Regions from separate parts of the Homo sapiens genome. Here region 1 is linked to region 2. The links come from fine-mapping of genetic effects on plasma protein levels. A gene starts in region 2. The other region holds a variant in brackets. All regions are shown on one strand. Distances are from middle to middle.

The links. PIP is the posterior inclusion probability: the model's chance that the variant is causal. The UK Biobank Pharma Proteomics Project read protein levels with antibody pairs (Olink). The fine-mapping took linkage between variants from a reference panel, not from the people measured, so its PIPs are less certain.
Region 1: its variant is fine-mapped to the plasma level of the TRIM58 protein (UK Biobank, PIP above 0.99). The variant lies in the coding sequence of TRIM58. If it changes the protein, the assay may bind it differently, which can mimic a change of level.

What each region holds. Positions count from the first base shown.
Region 1 is chr1:247,872,394-247,877,697 of GRCh38, reverse strand. TRIM58 (tripartite motif containing 58) reads right to left here. Exons shown (of 6, transcript NM_015431.4): 6 at 1-1,798. The coding sequence ends at 1,209. Among named protein-coding and RNA genes, the nearest start is that of TRIM58, 18 kb to the right of the region's middle. The variant A/G (reference allele first, on the strand shown) is at 1,211.
Region 2 is chr1:247,854,654-247,860,032 of GRCh38, reverse strand. TRIM58 (tripartite motif containing 58) reads right to left here and starts at 2,846. Exons shown (of 6, transcript NM_015431.4): 1 at 2,367-2,846. The coding sequence starts at 2,786. RefSeq lists a cis regulatory region at 4,369-4,933.

The DNA.
Region 1 (5,304 bases), 18 kb before region 2:
CAAATATGACCTTAAATATTTACCATAACACAGTGAGGCCAGTATAATTGTTCCATGTATAGGAACCATAACAAGCAGCTAAAAGAGAGAGAGAAGTGTTGTTTGAGGTCTTTTTTCTTTTTTGAGATGGAGTCTCGCACTGGGCTGGAGTACAGTGGTGAGATATTGGCTCACTGCAACCTCCGCCTCCAGGGTTCAAGCAATTCTCCTGTCTCCACCTCCAGAATAGCTGGGATTACAGGCTCCTGCCACCATGCCCAGCTAATTTTTCTATTTTTTTTTTTTTTTTAGTAGAGACAGGGTTTCACCATGTTGGCCAGGCTGGTCTTGAACTCCTGAGCTTGTGATCCACCCGCCTCAGCCTCCCAAAGTGCTGGGATTACAGGCGTGAGCCACTGCACCCAGCCTTAAGGTCTTATAACTAGTAAATATCTGCATTAAAGAACGAGTTGAATGAAAATTCTGATAAATTCCTACTTAAAGTGTATCCAAAGAAAACGGAAAAAGTCTAGGAGTTAGTGATATTAGATTCAGAAGAATGAGCTTTGTAATTCTTAAAAATTAGTCTCAGAATAGAAAGGATTTTAAAAGTAATTGAGTAAAGTCATAGGAAATGTGACCATATAAAGGAATGGCTCTAAATGTATTAATCCAGAAGGAAGCAACAGGTTAAACAGTAAGAGGTAAGAAACAAAAAATAAGGAACAAGAGAGAGAGAGTGACAGGGAGAGAGAGACAGAGCGGGGAAGGAGAGAATGAGAAGGAAAATCAGGAAAACGAGGAGAAACAGAATTAAGGAGGTGATACTGGAATAGTATCAGACCATTCTGAATCAATTTAAGAATTGCCATGTCTAATTCTTATATGGAAGATTTGAAATACAAGGATATTGAAAGGAATAACAAATTATAATGAATGCATAGAAATCCTTATGTAATCCAAGGTCATTAATTTGAAGGAAGACATCAAGAAAATGTGATCTAGAAATAGAGGTTGAGATTGCTCCATTTACAAAATTATTATGCTCTATAATCTTCCCATATGCAAATATTTCATATTCCCTCTTTTGTCCCATGGACATATTTCACAGCAACAACGAATCAAGTGCTGACCTAAATGGGGTATCTGTTAAAACTTAGTATATTGATATCCTTCACCCCACTCCAGGAACGTTCGCTACGCTAGGACTGCATCTTGGGAACAGAATTTT[A/G]GAGATGATCATCTCTTACATCAGAAGCAGGATCTAAATGATCCCTGGATGCCCAATTTCCTGACCCTGCTATTGTTGTGGGTGGCAAGATAAGAGGAGTTGCATCACAGATGAAAAAGTAAGGCCGAAGAAGACCAGAGAAGAGTTGGTTGAATGTGTAGATATAAGATCCATCTGTGACATTGTAGAATGAAATTTCACCGGCTTCATAGTCCAAGAAAATCCCAATGCAGCGAGGACTTTCCAGTTGGAGAAGAGGCACTGATGGGGAGGCAAGGACCATGTACTCATTCCCTTTCAGCAGCCACAGGGCCCAGACCCCATTCTCAGGAGATGGCGTGGTTTCCCCCTTTCTTGGCAGTGTGTCTTGACAGACCCCTAAACCCCACTCTGCTCCTTCTCCCACCAGAACCTCCCAGTAATGCCTCCCTGATGAGAAGCTCTGCAAACCCAGGATGCAGGGCCATGTGTCAAATCGCTCAGGGTTGTTGGGGACATCCCTCCATGGTTCTCCATCCTGCACACTGCGCAGGTCGGCGGTCAAGAGCAGACTCGGGTGCGCCGTGGCGGGATCCAGCTTTACATCCACTGCGGAAAGAATGTGGTGGACCAGGTGAAAGGAAAGAAAGGACTGGTAGAAACTTAGGAAACCACTGAAAAGAATAGTCCCACAGTTCCTCACTTTTCTCTCTCTATTAACTCCTAGAGAAAACAAATCAGTATTTCACCTTACAGGTGAAATCTTCTTTATTACTTTATTATTCTTATTCTTTATAACTTTCTGGTATATTCCACTGTTACCTCTGCGTAACCCAGAACTCTTTAACTTTCCCAAAAAAAAACAACTATTGATGACGACAAACCAAGTGAATTATCATTTAGTTTCCTTTCATTTACATCTAAAGCATTTGTGTGTGTGTGTGTGCGTGAGAGAGAGAGAGAGAGACAGAGAGACGGGGTCTTGCTATGTTGCCCAGGCTGGAGTGCAGAGCTATTCATGGGCATAGCCGTGGTACACTACAGCCTCAAACTCCTGGACTCAAGCAATCCTCCCGTGTCTGCCTCCCCAGCAGCTGGGACTACAGGTGCACACCACCATGTCTGGCTTACATCCAAAGCATTTGAGTGCACTTAGGAGGATCTTCTGCATTTAACATAAAATTTATAAACCCCTTAGGAATTTTTTTCTTAAAAATCTATAGAATTTTATTAATATTAAATCCACTACTTCCAAAGTTATATTACTGTGGTAGGCGGAATTCTAAGATGGACCCCATGACCTTCACACCCTGGTGTTAGCCTCATGAGTATGTTACACTATATGACAAGAGAGAGATTATCAAGGTGCGTCTAATCAAATCCCACAAGTCCTGTAAAATCAGAAAGTTTTCTCTGGCTATTGGGTTGGTGGCAGCAGGAAAGGTCAATAAGATGTGGATTTGATATCTCTTTGCTGGCTTTGAAAATGGAAAGGTCACATGAAGAGACAAACGAGTGACCTCTAGAGCTGAGAGTGATCTCCAGAGCTGAGAATAGCCCCCAACCAACAGCCAGCAAGAAAACAGGAATCTCAGTACCGCATTTGCACAGAATTGTATTATGCCAACAACCTGAATAAGGTTGGAGGTAAGGTTCTTCCCCCGACCTACACAGAAGCCTGGCCTGGCCTGGCCAACACCCATATTTGGGCCTTGAGAAAACCTAAGCAGAGGAGCCAGCTGATCCCACTTGGATGTCTGGTCTTCAGAACCATGAGCTACTAAATGGTATGGCTTTAAGCACATAAGCTTGTAGTTATGCGTTATATAACAATAAAAAATACTGATACTCTGAAGTCCCAGTGAGATTGATGAGACATTTGACCCATATACATAATAAATAAATACATCTAGATATGAAACCTCAGTGAAGGGGGGATGTAAAATATTCAGTGCATTTCCTTATTAGCATTGCTTATAAGTAGTAAGTTAATAAATAATATGGTTTGGATGTGTATCGCCTCCCGGTCTCATGTTGAAATGTGATTCCCAATGTTGAAGGTGGGGCCTAGTGGGGGGTGCTGGATCATGGGTGCAGATCCCCCATGAATGACTTAGTGCCATCCCACTGGTGATAAGTGAGTTCTTTATCCGTTCATGCAAGAGCTGGTCGTTTAAGAGGAACCTGGGGCCTCCCCACTTCACTGCTTCCCTCTTGCCATGTGATACGCTGGCTCCTCCTTTGCTTTCCACCATGACTGTAGGTGTCCTGAGGCCTCACCAGAAACAGGTGCCAGCACCATGACTCCTGTACAGCCTACAGAACCATGAGCCAAAATAAAGCATATTTCCTTATATTAATAAATTACCCAGCCTCAGGTATTTCTTTATAGCAATGCAAAATCAGACTAACATGTTAATATAGTTTGATTTTTAATATCAGAACAAATACTGTTTCTACTGCTACTGCTACTGCTACTGCTACTACCACTACCACTATACTTATTTGCCTTTAAACACTTACAGTGAACTACTTTTTTTTTTGAAACGGAGTCTCGCTCTGTTGCCCAGTCTGGAGTGCAGTGGTGCAATCACAGCTCACTGCAGCCTCCACCTCTCAGACTCAAGCCATCCCCTGACCTCAGCCCTCTGAGTAGCTGGGAAGGCACACACCACCATGCCCAGCTAGTTTTCTGTATTTTTTTGTAGAGAAGGGGTTTTGCCATGTTGCCCAGGCTGGTCTCGAACTCCTGGGTTCAAGCAATCCATCCGCCTCAGCCTCCCAAAATGTTGGGATTACAGGCGTGAGCTGCCACGCCCGGTCTAGTGAATTTTTATTGATACCCAACCTGAGTGGTCACGTAACTGCGCATTGCATTATTTTTATTATGTAACCACCCTGAGGGTCACCATTGTCATCCCTACATTACACAAGAGTAGATTCAGAGTCAAAGAGTTTATGTGGTCTTCCCAAACTCTAGAGGTAAATAACAGAGATTGAAAGGTAGGTCTCCATGGATTGTGCATTTAACACAATCTAACAGGTCATGTATTCCCAAGCCATTCCTCTTCCGGCACAGTGGTCTGCTTCATTTCTAACAAAAGAGATCTGTGAAATGGCTTTTGATATGGTCTGTATCCCATTCCTCTCCCTACCCCTTCTCTCCTAAACTCAATTCTTCATCATGATGTGACCATACCCCAACCAAACTGCGCATGTCCATCTTCCCAGGGACCTCCGTGTTGATGAATGGTTACTTGTCAGTTTGTCTTTTTTTTAAGATGGAGTTTTGCTCTTGTTGCCCAGGCTGGAGTTCAATGGCATGATCTTGGCTTACTGCAACCCCCATCTCCCGGGTTCAAGTGATTCTCCTGCCTCAGCCTCCCGAGTAGCTGGGATTACAGGCATGCACCACCACGCCTGGCTAATTTTGTATTTTTAGTAGAGACAAGGTTTCCTCAGGTTGATCAGGCTGGTCTCGAACTCCTGACCTCAGGTGATCTGCCCGCCTCGGCCTCCCAAAGTGCAGGGATTTACAGGCGTGAGCCACCGCGCCCGGCCCAGAGTTCATCTTCAATGATTTTTCTGTATCTCTCAACACTGAGAATCTACTTGTGCTGGAAAATCTCCCTTTTCCAAAGGTAACACTCATCCATGTTTCCCTTCCCTCACTGCTCACTACTCCTTGATCCTCTTTGCTGTTCTCTTCTCCTCCACCACCACCACTGGAGAAACCTATAGTCCCAAGACTTGGACTTCTTCTCTCTCTCTCACCTCACTCCCTATCTACCCGGGTGCTGGCTGGTTCATTGCTTTGATAAAATTCCATTCATATGCTGACTGATTCCCAATGCATGTGCTTAGCTTTGAACTTTACCCTGAAACTCCCTATTGTACATTCATCTGCCCACTTGATAGCAACATTTGAATATTTAGCACTCATCGCAACATCCACATATCCAAAACCCTGTGCCCTTCTTCTGCTTCAACTGTCGCTTTCCTCATCAATATAAGTGGCAATCACATTTTGCCAGTTCGCAAGATCCAAAACCTTGGAATCATTCATGGCTCTTCCTGTTTATAGCACATCATATATAATCCAACAGCAAATCTTA
Region 2 (5,379 bases):
TTACAGAATGTTTAATGACTAGAAATACAATGATAATGTCCAATGAATAAAAATATTTTACAAAACAACATGAATTTTGAAAAAAAATGTGCTGGTAATGAATATATTAAAACTGGGCTGATGTAAATGAGAATGATATTAGATAAAATGTCATCTATTGGTGTTTGGATGAAGAGTGATGCTATTATATCTCTATATTTCATATATTTCTCTATATAACTATATTTATACATTTCTCTATATTTATATATTTCTCTATATAACTGTATTCTGTATTTCTCTATATAACTTCAACTTCTTGAAGTTATTGGTTACTTTATGATAAAGCATGGGTTTATTATTGTAGTATTAGTAGTATTATTAGGTCAGAAGGAACTTGGTAGGTTATCATATTTTATATGAAAAAACACAGTATGTTGTAAACCTTGCAATGAGTAAAAATACAATGAGAACTAAATCTTCCTTCAATGATAGGGCGCTCACTAGAGGTAAATATGTGTATTTTAAATACTCACAAAGATACATACATAAACAGGATTTTAATTAAAAAATTATATTCCCAAAGTTACTCAATAAATCCTACATACACATCAATTGTTTTTAAAAGGAGAATATTATAATTGTTATATATAAAATAACAGTAGAATTCATGATACCATTTGACTCAGTGGGGAAAGTGGCATGTGTTTTGGTGTTTACAAAGAACGGAGCACTTTGACACTTGTAGATAAAGAAAAGCTCCCTCAGGCCAAAGAAACTGTCAGCAAAAGCAAGGAGATGTAGCACAGTTAGGAAAACAGTGATTCGGCTAAATTTGCTGGGTTTCCTGGCTGGTTAAGACAAGAGAGCTATGGAAACATAACTTAGGGCCCTAGAAAGCTTTCACTGAGAGGCTCAGGAGTTTAGATAATATTTATTTGGTATTTAACCGAAGAACTACTGAAAATATGGAGAACACCTTTAGAAATATTACACTAGAGGCTGGGCTGCCTGTAACACCAGCACTTTGGGAGGCCACGGCGGATGGATCACAAGGTCAGGAGTTCAAGACCAGCCTGGCCAACACAGTGAAACCCCGTCTCTACTAAAAATACAAAAATTAGCCGGGTGTGGTGACGCATACCTGTAATCCCAGCTACCCGGGAGGCTGAGGCAGGAGAATTGCTTGCACCAGGACCCGGGAGACGGAGGTTGCAATGAGCCGAGATTGCGCCACTGCCCTCCAGCCTGAGCTACAGAACTAGACTCCGTCTCAAAAAAAAAAAAAAAAAAAAAAAAAAGTTACTACCAATCCTCTTTCTGGACTTTTTTTAAAAAGGCAAGAACATTCCAGAAAAGTTTAGCTAGAAATTACCTAGTACTAGTACCTACATCTCGCAAATGACAACGAAAATCAAGAAGAAATACCAAGAGAGATATTGGTAGAGAAGGAAGGGGAAAATATCCTAAACCTTAATTTAAAACAAACAAAATAAATAAATAAAAATTTTAAGAAAGTATTTGCAATGCACTACAGCGCGACTGACAGTCCTTTGGTTAAATCTGTCAGTAAAGACGACTTAGACCTCCTCTGTGCTGGCAGTTGTTCTACATGCTGGGATTCAAGTGTGTTCAGAAAACATCCAAGAACTTTTGAAGGGCACCAGTAGGAAGAAATCGACACACAATTTCACAGATGCCACTCTGGGGACCAAATACTCCCATTTTGTTTTTCTTCTTTCTCTTTGAAGCTTCCCGGGCTACACCCCAAATGAAGCACCTCTTCATTGAGGATGTTCGAATCCTAAGTCCCCAAATCCCTGCTGATGGAGAGCCACCCGCTCCTACTTCAGGAGGCACGTGCACCTGAGCTTTGGAGGGGTCGGAACCCGTACCCAGCTCGACACTCTTCTTAACAACGCCCAAACCCGAGGGTTGCTTTGCTGACAACACTCATTTAATGTAAACACTGTGCAAAAGCAAAGCATTGCACAAATGAGAATTATTATGGCAAGTTTACGATATAGACGTACAATTGTTACCAAGAATGAACTGGACCACACAGCCCTCCCGACCAGAGCCCAGCTGAGGGACCAGACTATCCGCATCGGGAGAAACCAGCCCAGCGCGAGTTCGACGACAGGAGAGTGCTTGGGGGAGGGGCGGACGGTGTAAAATAATGGGTGTGTGTCGCAAAGGGGGTTACCACAGCCAAGGCAAAGAGACCCACACTGAGTGAGCCGCGTGGGCGGGGGGGACGGCGCGCGGTGGGGGGAGCGGCCGTGGGAGCCGCTCAGGAGACGGGTGGCCTCGGCGGCTCCGCTCCGGACTGTCGCCCGCTTCCCGGTCACCGCAGCGCCCGCAGCCCCCGCCGGGGGGCGCCTCACCTGGTAGCTGCCGGCGGCCTCCTGCAGCGGCGCCGTGCGGTGCGTCCTGTGCTCGGGGCCGGCGTCGCACACCCAGCACAGCGCCGCCTCGTCCTCCTCGCAGAAGCGGCTCAGGTCCTCGCCGTGCCGCGCGCATCGCCGCGCCCCGGGCCCCGCGCCCAACCCCAGCCGCCGCACGCTCTCCACCAGGCCCGCCAGCTGCCGGTTGGGGCGAAAGCCCGAGGGCCGGAAGGGGCCCCGGCACTGCGGACAGGCGTAGACGCCGCCCTGCGCGCCGTCCGACTTCTCGCAGAACTCGGAGATGCACCTGAGGCAGAAGCTGTGGCCGCAGTCCACGCTGACCGGCTCCTGCAGGAAATCCAGGCACACCGGGCACCGCGCATCCTCGCGCAGCCGCTCCCCGGGCGGCGCCCAGGCCATGACCCGCCTCCCGGAGGGCTGCGCTCCCGGCCGCCCGCACCGTCTCCCCTCGCGGTCTGCACAGGGGGAGGAGCCCACGCCCCAGGAAAGCAGGCGCCGACGGGTGGTGTCCGCTGGCTTCAGTTCAAGAGCTCAGACGAGCCACACCCGGTGAAAAGCCACCACTCAGGCGCTCCCTATGTCGGGGATAAAATTAACGTTGTGGTTCCCCGCCCCCGTCACACACACACCCAGGAAACTGGGCATTTCTAACTGGAATCCCTCCTCATATGCTATTTTCACTGGCAGTAGATCTGGAGAATTGCTAAATTCCCTCCTTCCTTCCATCTTTGTTTGTTTGTTTTTGTTTTTGTTTTTTTGAGAGGGAGTCTCGCTCTGTCGCCCAGGCTGGAGTGCGGTGGCGCGATCTCGGCTCACTGCAGCCTCCGCCTCCCGGGTTCAAGCGATTCTCCTGCCTCAGCCTCGCAAGCAGCAGGGATTACAGGCGCCCGCCACCATGCCCGGCTAATTTTTGTATTTTTAGTAGAGACGGGGTTTCACCATTTTGGTCAGCCTGGTCTTGAACTCGTGACCTCAGGTGATCTGCCCGCCTCGACCTCCCAGAGTGCTGGGATTACAGGCGCGAGCCACCGCGCCCAGCCTCCATCATCATTATATAGATTTAGTGCAGATTTCTGGGGTACCAGTGCAGTTTTGTTACATGGAGACACTGCATAAAGTCTAGGCTTTAGCGCAGGCATCGCTGTGATAGCGTAAATTGTTCTCATTAGGTGATCTCTCATCCCTCGCCCGCCTTCCACCCTCCGAGCCCCTTCCATTGTTACTGAGCTACTCCATGGTCCTCTCATGCCATAATCGTTTCTTAAAAGGCTTTCCCCCTTTATATGGCATAATCAATTTTTAAATGTTTTTTTCAAACTTCATTTTTTTCTCTTGCACTAATTACCTCTTGATAAAGAAATGAGACACCGCCTGACACGGGAAGATGCCTGCATAGGTGTGTGTAACTATAGGTTTACAGCCCAGCCAAAAATAATTCTAAATATTTAAATAAATATCTGGCCTAGTTCAATGAGGATCCTACAAGGAATACACACATGTTGTAGGATTGTTGCAAAGCCAGTCTTGGAGATGACAAAGCTATAGAGATACTCATCAGAGGAATAATTCAAGCTTAGCCTCTCAGTGGTGTACCTGTCAGATGGGGGAGGCTGAGACAGGAGCAAAATGATTTGACAGAGTATGTTACTTCATCCAGTGGAAGGCTGAATCAGGATAAAGTACATTAAAGTCTCTAATGTCGTCCAGAAAGTCGACAAGTCTGAGGCAGTGTCTGCATCTGTGCAAAATAACTTTAGTATGGTCGAGTTTGAAGTGATGGTGGGGTGTACCTGTGGCAAATCAATCTGTCCCTGAGCACACATTGTGTCTGTTTGTAGCCAGGAGTCTCAGACATTGCACCGGGTACTGAAAATACACATGTTAAGGAAAAGAGGTGGGACCCCATTTCTCCAGGAGCCTTAAGATCAACTAGAAGAGGTGGATATGAAATCATGCAAACATATAATTACAAACCAATAACTGCAAGGAAGGTCGCTCACCAGTCCTGCAGGAATATAACAGAGGACTCTGAATGAGGCTGCAGGGTCGGGGGCAGACACCTGAGGTCTCTGAGCAAACCTCTGATAGGTGAACACAAGCTGGCCAGCGGGAAGGGGGGCTCCGCAAGGCCGTGCCCCCAGAAGCCATGAAAGGTACAAGGTAAACTTCAGCAGGTGGGAGCAAGACATACCCAGATGACAGTGAGAAGCCAGGCAGGCTGGCAAGCTGGGCCAGAATATGGTGGCAGCAGATAAGGCTGCAGCAAGAGGCGGGGCCAGATGACTCAGGTCCTTGGGGATCCTCTGGGGTTTGTGGGTCTTCATTATAAGGACAAACTCTTGGGCTGGATCTCTGGCGACAGGCAGAGCAGAGGATCTTGAGGCCTAAAGGTTAAGTGCGCAATTAAAGCGAATAGATTCTTGGAGAACACACATGGATCTGTATTAGCAAAACACGAAAGATGTGGCATTAGAGAAAAAAGCTAAAGAGCAGAAGGCTTAGCAAAGAAAAACAGACTCTGGCTCCGGACTAAGGGCTGTGGCACTTGCTGAGAAGCTTGAGGCAAGCTGTGCCGCGTTTCTGCCCTGCATTTCTTCTGACGTGCAGTGAAGAGGTGTTAGTGTCATTCATATAAGGCCTTTCAGAGTATTAAACGAGCTAATAGATAGTAGACACTTAATATAGGTCCTGGCATGTTGGAAATACACACACACACACACACACACACACACACACACGTATATATATTGAGACAGGGTCTTGCTCTGCTGCCCAGGCTATAGTGTAGTGCCACAACCTGACTCACTGTAGCCTCTACCTTTCAGGCTCAAGTGATCTTCTCACCTCAGCCTCCCAAGTACCTGCGACTACAGGTGCCCGCCACCACGCCCAGCTAATTTTTGTATTTTTTGTAGAGACAGAGTTTCGCCCTGTTGCCCAGGCTGGTCTCAAACTCCTGGGTTCAAACAATCTCCCCACCTTGGCCTCCCAA